Homo sapiens: one gene and its partners. The protein of the gene in region 3 purifies or fractionates together with the protein of the main gene of each other region. This does not show direct contact. Each region holds a gene or a part of one and is shown on either strand. Other genes may lie near its edges. The genes, in order: MACROH2A2, ZNF346 and MTHFSD.

Evidence for each region.
Region 1: the proteins of MTHFSD (region 3) and MACROH2A2 purify together in Homo sapiens (co-immunoprecipitation; one large-scale study listed by IntAct). This does not show direct contact.
Region 2: the proteins of MTHFSD (region 3) and ZNF346 purify together in Homo sapiens (co-immunoprecipitation; one large-scale study listed by IntAct). This does not show direct contact.

Annotation. Positions count from the first base shown.
Region 1 is NC_000010.11:70,059,166-70,062,893, forward strand, and holds part of MACROH2A2 (core histone macro-H2A.2), read left to right. Parts: intron 1-3,728. UniProt on the Homo sapiens protein: Variant histone H2A which replaces conventional H2A in a subset of nucleosomes where it represses transcription. Nucleosomes wrap and compact DNA into chromatin, limiting DNA accessibility to the cellular machineries which require DNA as a template.
Region 2 is NC_000005.10:177,064,196-177,067,695, forward strand, and holds part of ZNF346 (zinc finger protein 346), read left to right. Parts: intron 1-316; coding exon 317-404; coding exon of another isoform or gene 405-562; 3' UTR 563-905; coding exon of another isoform or gene 906-931; 3' UTR 932-3,500.
Region 3 is NC_000016.10:86,548,514-86,552,241, reverse strand, and holds part of MTHFSD (methenyltetrahydrofolate synthase domain-containing protein), read left to right. Parts: coding exon of another isoform or gene 1-63; intron 64-95; coding exon 96-209; exon of another isoform or gene 210-269; intron 270-3,664; coding exon 3,665-3,728.

The DNA of each region.
Region 1 (3,728 bases), on a different chromosome or scaffold from region 3:
GGGAGTCTGTTTTGAGCATCTTATAGGTTGGAGAGGACCTCAGAGGTGAGCTGGTGCAATGGTTCTCAGGTGGGGCTCCACAGAACCCAGTGCTCCTTGGAGGCCCAAGGCAGGAAAGGTGGCGACCAAGCTGTTGAAGTTCCCAGGCACTTGCCCACTCCAGCCAGGACAGCTCCCCTTGCATCTGTTTTATATATTAGAGTATAATTTCTTTTTTTTTTTTTTGAGACAGAGTCTCACTCTGTCACCCAGGCTGGAGTGCAGTGGCGTGGTCTTGGCTCACTGCAACCTCTGCCTCCTAGGTTCATGATTTTCCTGCCTCAACCTCCTAAGTAGCTGGGATTACAGACGTGCGCCACCACACCTGGCTAATTTTTGTGTTTTTAGTAGAGACAGAGTTTCACCATGTTGGCCAGGCTGGTCTCGAACTCCTGACCTCAAGTGATCCTCCCGCCTCGGCCTCCCAAAGTGTTGGGATTACAGGCGTGAGCCACCGCGCCTGGCCTCCTACAAATTTTTGTTCAAGCAAAAGGGGAACCCTACGAGGTCTACTGATTTGCCTACAGGCCACAGCTAGTCACAGCCAAACTGGAGGCTCCCTCCCCGTGGTCCACCGCACCTTCCATTCTACCACCTTGATGCCCCCTTGAACTTTGGCAGGTTTCACCCACAGAGGGGATGGTGTGGTGTGGCCAGTGGCTGGTTACACCCACAGAGAGGATGGTGTGGTGTGGTGTGGCCAGTGGTAGCCCTTAGCTGAAGCAGCTGATACAATGTGCCGGGGCCCAGGAGCTACAGGGGACCCACACGTGCATAACCAGGGAGCAACACTGCCTGTCAAGAGCACAGAACATAGAACTGCAGCAAAAGACCCAAGCCACTTGTCCCCACAGTGCAGCCACTGCCTGAGGACTGACAGCAGGGCCAGGTGCGGTGGTTCACGACTATAATCCCAGCAGTTTGGGAGGCTGAGGTGGGCGGATCACTTGAGGTCAGGAGTTGGAGACCAGTCTGGCCCACATGCTGAAAACCCATCTCTACTAAAAACACAAAAATTAGGGGGGCACAGTGGTGGGCGCCTATAATTCCAGCTATTTGGGAGGCTGAGGCAGGAGAATCTCCTGAACCAGGGAGGCAGAAGTTGCAGTGAGCCAAGATTGCACCACTGCACTCCAGCCTGGGCGACAGAGCCAGACTCTCTTAAAAAAAAAAGAAAGAAAAAGAAAAAAGGACAGACAGCAAGAAAAAATGGGTAGGGAGGTGCAGGCAGAGAAAGGGATGGAGGAAGAGGGGTTCCAGAGCAGTCTGTTGTTCTAGCTTTGAGAGCAGACAACTGGCCCCACTGATGAACTCAGTTGCTCAGCAAACATGGATGTCTCTGGAAGCCCCTGGTGGATCAGGCACACCAAGGCATACAGTCCACCTGCTGTCTGGTACTGGAACACTCACCCTAGCCCCTAACGGTGCGCCTGCACACCTCTACTCCCATTTGGGAATCTCATCTTGGCTCAGACAAAGCCAGTGCCCTGCTCAGAGAAGTAAAGAATGTGCTGCTTATAACAATAAACTGCATTACTAATTTGGATCTGTTAGATTTGCAGAAAACAAGATAGTTTAACCACTGTTATACTTGATAAAGAACTTATTTAAATTAAAAGAAAATCTTGGTCAAGCTGGTCTCAGTGGCTCATGCCTGTAATCTCAGCACTTTGGGAGGCTAAGTTGGGAGGACTATTTGAACTTAGGATGTCAAGGCCGCAGTGAGCTGATTGGGCCACTGCACTCCAGCCTGGGTGACAGAGACTCTGTCTAAAAAAAAAAAAAAGAAAAAAGAAATATTGGTTTAAAGAAACCAGACTACTTTGTCTTTTTATGAAGGCCATCAGCATGTTAAATAAAGTTTATCCTTTCTCCCCAAAAGCAATTCATTCAATAAGGGCATGTGCTAAGGGGTTTTTCTTTCTTTCCTCTCCTCCCTTCTGAGATCCCAGTATAATTTTAAATATTGTTTATGGAAATCCCACTGCTCCTATTTGTCAAGCCTCAAAGAACAAAAAGACAAGAAGAGACCAGGCTGGACCCAGTGAGGGTGTTTTTGTTTTGTTTTCTGTGGATGAATAGATTCAGGAAGGCAAACTGGTTCATTTTCTGGTTGGCTTTCTTTAGGAATGCATTGCTAACTCAGATTCAAAGAAAACTAAAATTATTTTCATTCATTTCTCATCCAAGTACCACAGGTGGCCAAACGTATTTATATTAGAAAATAGCATAAGGCCAATAATAAAGAAACAAGCTACATTATAGATCAACAACTTCTGCATTTCTCTTTTTTAAAATAACCACAGCTCAGGTTCAACAGAGACAACAAAACATGTTAAAATGTCTTAGTATCCTGCAGTAGCAGCAGATATCCTAAATCTACCCCTTAAATGCCCCTACCCCTTGTCCCCAGCTCCTCTAGAGTGACCACACATGCTCTGCCTCTGAATGACAAAGAATGTGCCGGCAGTTGAACTTCCCACTACACGACGTGACTTGAAATACTTTTTTAAAAGGGAATGATTTGTTATCCAATAGTATAATTTAAATAAATTGGATTAATGCTTGGTTCTAACATTCATGGTTGGTTAATTTGGTTAATTTGATCTGCGTGCCATTTTGATGAAATTGCATTTGATATAGCCCTTTACGTTATAAATTGTTAATGTGCTGTAACATATATGACGATAAAATTATTGACTATTCTCATTCACTTAAAGGTGGCCTTGAAAGAAAATGGTTTGGAAAGTATTATACTATAATGATTTGCCCTTGGAGTTCATAAATGGAAGTGTAATAGAGCCAGTGATTTAGCTCTTATTACTGAAAATGATTTTTACAGCTACAAAATAATGCTAACAAACTATTATTATTTTAATACAGTACTTAGGGTAACACACCAAAATACAGTCAAACTCTATTAGGTGGGAAGCTAAGATTTTTTTCATACCCTTTAAAATATATTTCAATGTATAGTTAATATATTTATATTGAATCCCCTCATTTCCTACCTAGTTTTGTTTTATTTCATCTCAATGTATTCTCCCAAAGGATTATTCTGAACTGACAAAGATGCTTCATTGCAGTGTCTCCATCACTTTTCATAATATTTGCAATATAAAATATTCTGAAGCACAATACCACAGATTAGGGAAATATCATAGAGGATAAAAATGAATAAATTGAATAAATTTCAGCAATTTTAAAACAGTACATGAGTCCATTAGGGATGACACTGTGAATTTCATGTTCATGAAAACAATGTTTAAAGTTTTTTTTAAATTTCAATTCCATCATTAAAAGCTCTAAGATCTCTTATTTCTAGATTTAAAATAATGTATGATGAAAGCATTTTGATTTGCATACTTCTGAAGAGAATGATCTCGAAAGAGTGCTTTAAAAATAAGCCGTCTCGTGAGTCTAGATCCTTTGTCAAGGTGATTCATCGGTGTGACCGAACCCCACCTGTGACACCCTGGCCTATAATTATAGCTCCCAATCCTCAAATTACTGACTGCTGTCTCTTTTTCAAAGCCTCGTTGTAGAAGCTTGACTGTAGAAAAAAATGGTCATTTAAGTCAGGATGCTGTTGTATGTTCTCACCCATAAGTGGAAGCTAAACTGTAAGGGTACAAAGGCATCAGAATGACATAATAGACTTTGGGTACTCAGGGGAAAGGTGGGAAGAG
Region 2 (3,500 bases), on a different chromosome or scaffold from region 3:
GTATAGTGAAAAGGCATTGGCTACAGTCCTGAACCTACCACCTAAAAACATACTTCGGGCCAGCCACTTAAGCTTTCTGAACTTTAGTTTCCTTGTATGTAAAATGAGGGTGCTGTTTCTCACCTTGCAGAATTGCCATGAGGATGGAATGATGGAAGCTAAGCATCCAGCATTCTGCCAGCCCACAGTGGACCTCAGTGAAGGAAAGGTGTCCTGTCTATTACTCCAAGGCCCTGGAAGGGCAGTGCTATCATTGCAGTAGGCCAATACAGCTGCCACACACTGACCCTCTTCCTTTGTTCCTTCTCAAATACAGGTCACCAAAAACAGTGGCATCATCCCTGGGCCAGATTCCAATGCAAAGGCAACCCATTCAGAAAGACTCAACCACCTTGGAAGACTAGAGGTGATTCTGCCCAGCATCCCATATTGGGCCAGCCATGAGCCAGCTTCCCGTGACTGCTCAGCCCTTGGCTCCCTCTTGCTCGTTGTTCTCACCAGGAAAGTACACGGGCCTGAGGCAGGATTGGGCCACAGACAGCCTCTCATTGGTCCGGGCTAATTCACTCCTGCTGCTCCCCTTTGGCAGGGGTCCTGTAGGTCATGACAGGGGAGGCAAGGGTATTGAGAGACTCGGGGTCTCGCGGGGTGGTAGTTTGGAGGGTGGCTTTCCCCATTTCCCAACCCCTCTGGGCCTTAGGTGCTGAGGCCCCTGCCACCTGTCTTTCCTCTAAAGGTCAGTTTTGGGCCAGTTCTTGCAACTAAAGAGCAGAGATCTCTCTGGGCCCTAGACATTTCCAGCAAAACCTGGAACTTTCATGCCAAACCTGGGGCAGGGCAGGAAACAGAGGAAATGGCTGCAACATGGGAGCTTGGAGCTAATACGACACTCTGCCTTCCCCCAGAAGGTGCAGGCTTTCCTGAGTCTTAGACCAGATATGGCCAGTTGCGCAGGTTTCTGCCAACTGTGAAGTATCCTCCTGGAGCAGTGACACAATCTTGGCGGAGCATTGCTACCCCCGCTGCCCCCTCCACAGTTCCTGAATGGTGCTAAGGATCTGCAGCAGTTGGCAACGAGCTGGGGCTGGGGGCGGCCTCCATGTCCACTGAGATCATAGGACACTCCAATGGGGATGGGACCTTTCCCCTCCTCCATCAGAGGTGCTCTGACCCTAGGTTACACGGGAAAGTGCCCCACATGCAAGTCTCCCTGAGGGTTCTGCCCCTAAAGGCAGACTGCCTCATGCCCGCTAGCTGTGAGGTTCATTGCTACCCTCGGCCCTACTAGCCCTCTCTTCCCCCTTGTGCAGCGGACCACTTGCCCAGTTTGCTGTGGTGCTAGCCTTCCCCATCATCCACCGGGTGATTTCTGGGTCCCAGGGAAAGAAAGAGAGAGCTGATGCAGGTTTCTACAGTGAGGAACAGGCGTTTCCCAGGCCCCACACCCAGATTTCTCTATCTTTGCTGTGTTTTATGGCCTGGGACTGAGTCCACACGGATAGATTTTTCCTTGTAACCTTGAGACGAGAATTCCAAGGAGTGTCACCATCAGAGGCTTCTCTTCATTGTGTCAAAGAAGCCCCTAGCTGCTCTCGTGGCCTCCTTCCCCCACTCCCTATCCCTTCACCTGTGAAATGCCTTTGCTTTGCATATTGTGTGTGGATGTGTGTGTGTGTGTGTGTGTGTTTGTGTGTATGTGTGTGCTTCTGTGTGTGCCTAATGCTCTGTCTCTTGGTCACTGAAGCATCCAAATAAAGAATTTCCCTCATGGGCCAGACTACAACTTAACAGACCTAGGGTTTTGAGCCATATTGCCATTGGATCTAGTATGTCTGTCTTGACCCCTCACCCCCACCCCATTCAGACCTCAGTAGTCCCCAGTAGTCACTTTAGGAGTTGGGACAGAGTCGAGCACCCTGTGAAAGTCTCCCTTGAGTTCAGGTGCCCTGAACTCAGTACAGCCTCATCTTCTCATCCACCACCTTCTCCTGCTTCTCCTGTCACATAGGGCCTCATGAAGGTCTTTAAAGGGTTTAAGCTGGGGATCTGCTTTATGTTTGAGAGAACTGTTCTGGCTGTTATGTAAAGGAGTGCAGGGAGGGGCAGGAAAGGAGACAAGGAGGCCAGTATGGACACTGTGTCCAGTATGGCTTTCCAGGCTAATCACTTAGGGCAGAGACCCAGCCTTATTCATCTCTACTTCCTGATGTCCATAGTGGTGTGTCATGAATTTTTATTGAATGAACAAATGAGGTGTATGAGGAGAGATGGTTTTCTCCTGCTCAGCTCTTACACAGTGATAGGTTTGTTCCATGGGACTTATCATAGGCCTGGTGATTCTTGAAAGAGCATTTTTCATGACTCAAAAATGAGCTGAGAAGGAGTGTTATGGCCAGGTGCGGCGTCATGCACCTATAGTCCCAGCTGCTCAGGAGGCTAAGGCAGAAAGACCATTCAAGCCCAGGAGTTCCAGCCTGAAGTATGCTGTGATCATGCCTGTGAATAACCACTGCACTCCAGCCAGGGCAACATAACAAGACTCTATCTAAAAAAAAAAAAAAATTATAAAAATAAATTTGAAGGCTGGGCGCCGTGGCTCACGCCTGTAATCCAAGCACTTTGAGAGGCCAAGGCAGGTGGATAACCTGAGGTCAGAAGTTCGAGACCAGCCTGGCCAACATGATGGCAAAACCCCGTCCCTATAAAAAATACGAAAATCAGCTGCGCCTGGTGGCACACATCTGTAGTCCCAGCTACTTGGGAGGCTGAGGCAAGAGAATTGCTTGAACCCGGGAGGCGGAGGGTCGCATTGAGCCAAGATCGTGCCACTGCACTCCAGCCTAGGTGACAGAGTGAGACTCCTGTCTCAAAATAAATAAATAATAAATTTTAAAAGAAGGTAGCCAGGTGTGGTGGTGCATTCCTGTAGTCCTGGCTACCTGGAAGGGTGAGGCAGGAGGATCGCTTTAACCATGAGTTCAAGGCAGCAGTGAGCTATGATTATGCCACTGTACTCCAGCCTGGACAACAGAGCAAGACCCTGTCTCTAAAAATAATAATTTTTAAAATTTAAAAAAAGAAAGGAATGTTATGGCCTCAAGAGCTCTTTGTCCATCCTTTACTGTAGACAGCCAGATTTGAGGAAGGGGCCCAGGCAGCCTCAGCTCCCATTCAGTGCCACTCAGCCCCTGCTCCTGGTCAGCTGTGAAAGGCTCTACACAGCCCCAAGGGAGGTTCTCAGCTTCCCATGATCAGACTGCCTCAGCAATTCCCCAGAGTCCTTCTAAGCCACCTAGTATGTCAGATTCAGCCCCATCTACCAAGCAAGGAAATGAAGGGCAGGGGGTGAGTGGGCTATCATACCGTGAGCCTCCGGCCTGCAAGACCACTTTGTAGTCCCTACCAGCTGTGTGGCCAGCCCTGTTGGTAAAGGGACCTAGAGATGAACACTTTCTTGCCCTTAGGGGTTCACACACAGTCAAAGATCATGATGACAATGA
Region 3 (3,728 bases):
GCCAGGACCATTAAAGTAAATCCTGATGCCCCCCAGAAAAGTGCTCGCTTCTTCGTCCTTGAAGTAAGTGCAACTCTGTCTATTTGCCTAACTAGGGGTCTTATCTGGCTTGCCAAAACATCAAAGACCTAGACGTTTTTGCCAGAACACAGGAAGTTAAAGTGGACCCTGATAAACCACTGGAAGGCGTTCGGCTGCTGGTGCTGCAGGTAATTCCACTTCCCTGAGCCGAGCCGAGACCTGGCCGCCAAGGGGGACACCTTTTCCAGGTAGCTGGTCAGTGCACACGTCTGTCTTGCATTTAGAAAGTCGGTGCTTCCGATTCCCTCCAATACAGAAAGTGCCCTTGGTGGTGATTTTTCCAAGAATAGTTCAGAAGCCCTTCAGCTGTTTAGCAATTCAGTCAATCAGGAGTCCCGAATGCTTCTAAATTCAGAGATAAAGGATGTTCAAAACAATGGCTTCCAGGCCCAGTTGGCACAGGAGAGGGAACCCAGGCAGAACCTGTGGTGTTCCAGAATTGAGGAGCTGGAGCTGAAATAGATGACACCACTTTGCCATTTGAAATGAGCATGCTAACAAGCTTGCTGAACACAGAATCATTTGCTTCTGGATGACAGACGGTCACTTGTCATGTTCTGATACTATAAAGACCACGGTTAAGAACTGGAAAGGTTTCTTCTCAACACTGCTGAACTTTTTAAATTCAGGCATGCTTTTGTAATTTTTATTTTTTAACTTCCTAACCAAACAAACACAAAAACTATGGCGTTGAAGCATTCTCAGTTTTGATGTGCTTCATCAGAGGAGGAAGATTACAAGGAAGATTTAGTTCTTTTTGCCACAGTTGTGGTATTATGATGCTTTGAAACATGATAAATCACGAGTAAGAAGTCTGATGTACCCTCAAAAGGTATCGGTTAGAGCACTTGTTCCTCAACTGAAAACATACAGGCCCCTTTTCAAGGAAAACCAGAAAACTCCCCCAGGGTTGATTTAAATTAGTTTATTATAAACTAATTCAATATGATAAACATAAAACTTGGTATAAATTTTAATGCAGATAGCTTTTATGTAACTATAAAACCAAAATAAGCATATAAGTTAAATACAAACAAAACTATAAAATCAGTAACATTCAAATGGCCCCATTAATTTAACGTAATGGTTGATATGGTTTTGCTGGAGCAAATCGCAGCTGATAACATGAGTATAGTACTGGCCATCTCAGGGCAGAATCGTTGTCATTCTGCCTTAACGCTGCCATGCGTTGTGTGCTGACTCCATTCTCCCACCCAAGTTGCCAAGTCAGACTCCTGAGAAGCCCTGGTGAGAGGGGCACTTTCCACACCTCTTGCCGGAGCTGAGAGGAGGGGTCCAGGCTCGTGTGGGAGATCATTTTGTCTGCTGATGGTGGTTCAGCCCCAAGAGAGACTTCCATGTAGGCTCTTCCAGAAGCATAGCTTCCTGTCAGCCTTATTTTCCCAGTTAATGAATCATTTTAATAAGCTAGAAGTAGTAATAGCAGCAGTAGCAAGGAAGGACGGCAGTCGGCAGTCACTGCATTCGAGGCGCAGTTCTGTCTAAATGTTTTCCCTGTATTATGTGGTTTGGTTCTCTACTACTATGGGAGCCATCTCTGCTCCTCTGTGACACTTGAAACCAGAGACAGAGAGGCTCCACCTCAGGTTACCGCACATCAGTCTCAGTACAGCCAGGATTCTGACTCAGCCACCTGACTCCAGAGCCAGTCCTTGCAAGTGTGAAGTTCAGGGTGTTCTCAGCTGTCAGCCCCTCAGAGCAAAAATCAGAAACCTTGACCGTGTGGTCAGCCTTAGCCAAGATGGCCTGGAAGAGGGGTGCAGCCCTGAGCAAATCCCTGTTGCTTCATGCCATCATTTATTCAGGCTGAAGAAACAACTGCATAAGTAACTGAGCTATCTCCCAGGCTGCGTGCTGGGCATAGGATGTAGTGGTGCAAGACTACACACATGTGGTCCCTGAGTTCTGGTGCTTTCAGGGTCCTCAGTGGTTTTTGGAAACTTTAAGGGACTTAAGGATCAGCTGGGATGCAGGTAAAGATGCAAGTTCCTGAGCCCCAGCTGCATGTGGGCAGGCAATGGTGACATGCACAGCCTCAGGCCACACCTACAGGCACAGCAGCCAGTGTCTGACTGGACAGTCCGCAGTGCTGGGGGCACGCACAACCTCAAGCCACAGCTACAGGCACAGTGGCCAGTGTCTGACCGGACAGTCCGCAGTGCTGGGGGCATGCACAACCTCAAGCCACAGCTACAGGCACAGTGGCCAGTGTCTGACCGGACAGTCCGCAGTGCCGGGGGCATGCACAGCTTCCCAGGCCCAACCCCAGACCTGTGAGTCTCTAAAGTGGCATCAGATTCTGTTCAATCAGTACTCCGAGGGTGCTCCAAGTACACAGGCTTAAGCCCCACTGGCTTAGGTGCCACTTGCCAGCTCTGGCCACATGGTGGTATCACTCAAGGAGGTTTGAAGACTGTTGGCCATGCCAGGTTCCAGTCTCTGGAGTGAGGTCTAGACCTCGGTAATTCTTAAAGCTTGCTGGTGATTCTAATGCACACTAAAGGCTGAGATCCACTGAGCCAGAGGATGAGCAGCTTCTAGAAAAGAGAGAGTGATCCCCATATGTGGGGCACAGGACTCCAACACTGCCCATGAGGGAGCCACACTCCACCACTCCCAGAAAAGCAGCAGGCCGCAGTCACAGCTGCCTGTGTTGAAGTACTTCACTCTTGTGGTTGACAAGCCTTTGTTGAAATAGGCCAAACAGATGTCATGGGTCTTTTATTGGTCTTGGGTTGTCATCTCCTGCTCAAAAACTAAAATATACTATTATTTACATGAAAGATTTCACAGATCTTATGATTGCCTTGTGGCTTACCCTTGCATAATCTACAGAGACATCTCAGCCAGTGGTTTTCAAACTTTCGTGTGCATCAGAGTCACTGGAAGGCTCATCGAAGCTCCCCACCCCCAGAGGGGCTGATTCATTTCTAACAGGTGCCAGGAGCGCTGATGCGCTGGCCCAGGGCCCTCACTTTGAGAAGCCCTGTTCTAGAGGTTCTCACAATAGGCATTTGAGAACTAAGTAGAAGTCAAGGGCTATTGGCACGTATCAGTGTATTGATTATCATGATTACTGATCTCTTTGACTGTGATTTGCTGAACAGTCAAACTAGATAGAAATGTTTGAGTAACTAAGGTAGCTATGCCATGCCAGTTTCTAATGACAGCATTATTGTAACTGTGTCGCACTTGGTGCTGAGAGCAGAGGGGGCACAGGAAAGTTGAGGTTGGGATTTTGTCAGAACTGACCTTAGTTTGGATTTCTGTTGTCAGTTTTTACCTGTAACAATTTTGAATGGCAAGTGAAATCAAATTAGCAAGTTTAGTAAACCCTCTGGCTCTTCAGGGTAAGGAGGTGCCGAGTGGTGATTCTAAGAAAAATCGACCCCACACATTATTTAATTAGGTTTTCAAATAAGTAATTTCCTTGGCACACACCAAAAAAAACCATGCGGATAATAGTAATTTGCCTCTTCTCCTGAAATGGTAAAAATACATATAAGAAAGTCCTATGGAATAATTTGATTTTGTAATTTATTGATTGTCTTTTCTTTAAAAGAGCAAAAAAACATTGTTGGTTCCAACACCACGACTGAGAACGGGATTGTTTAATAAGATCACAC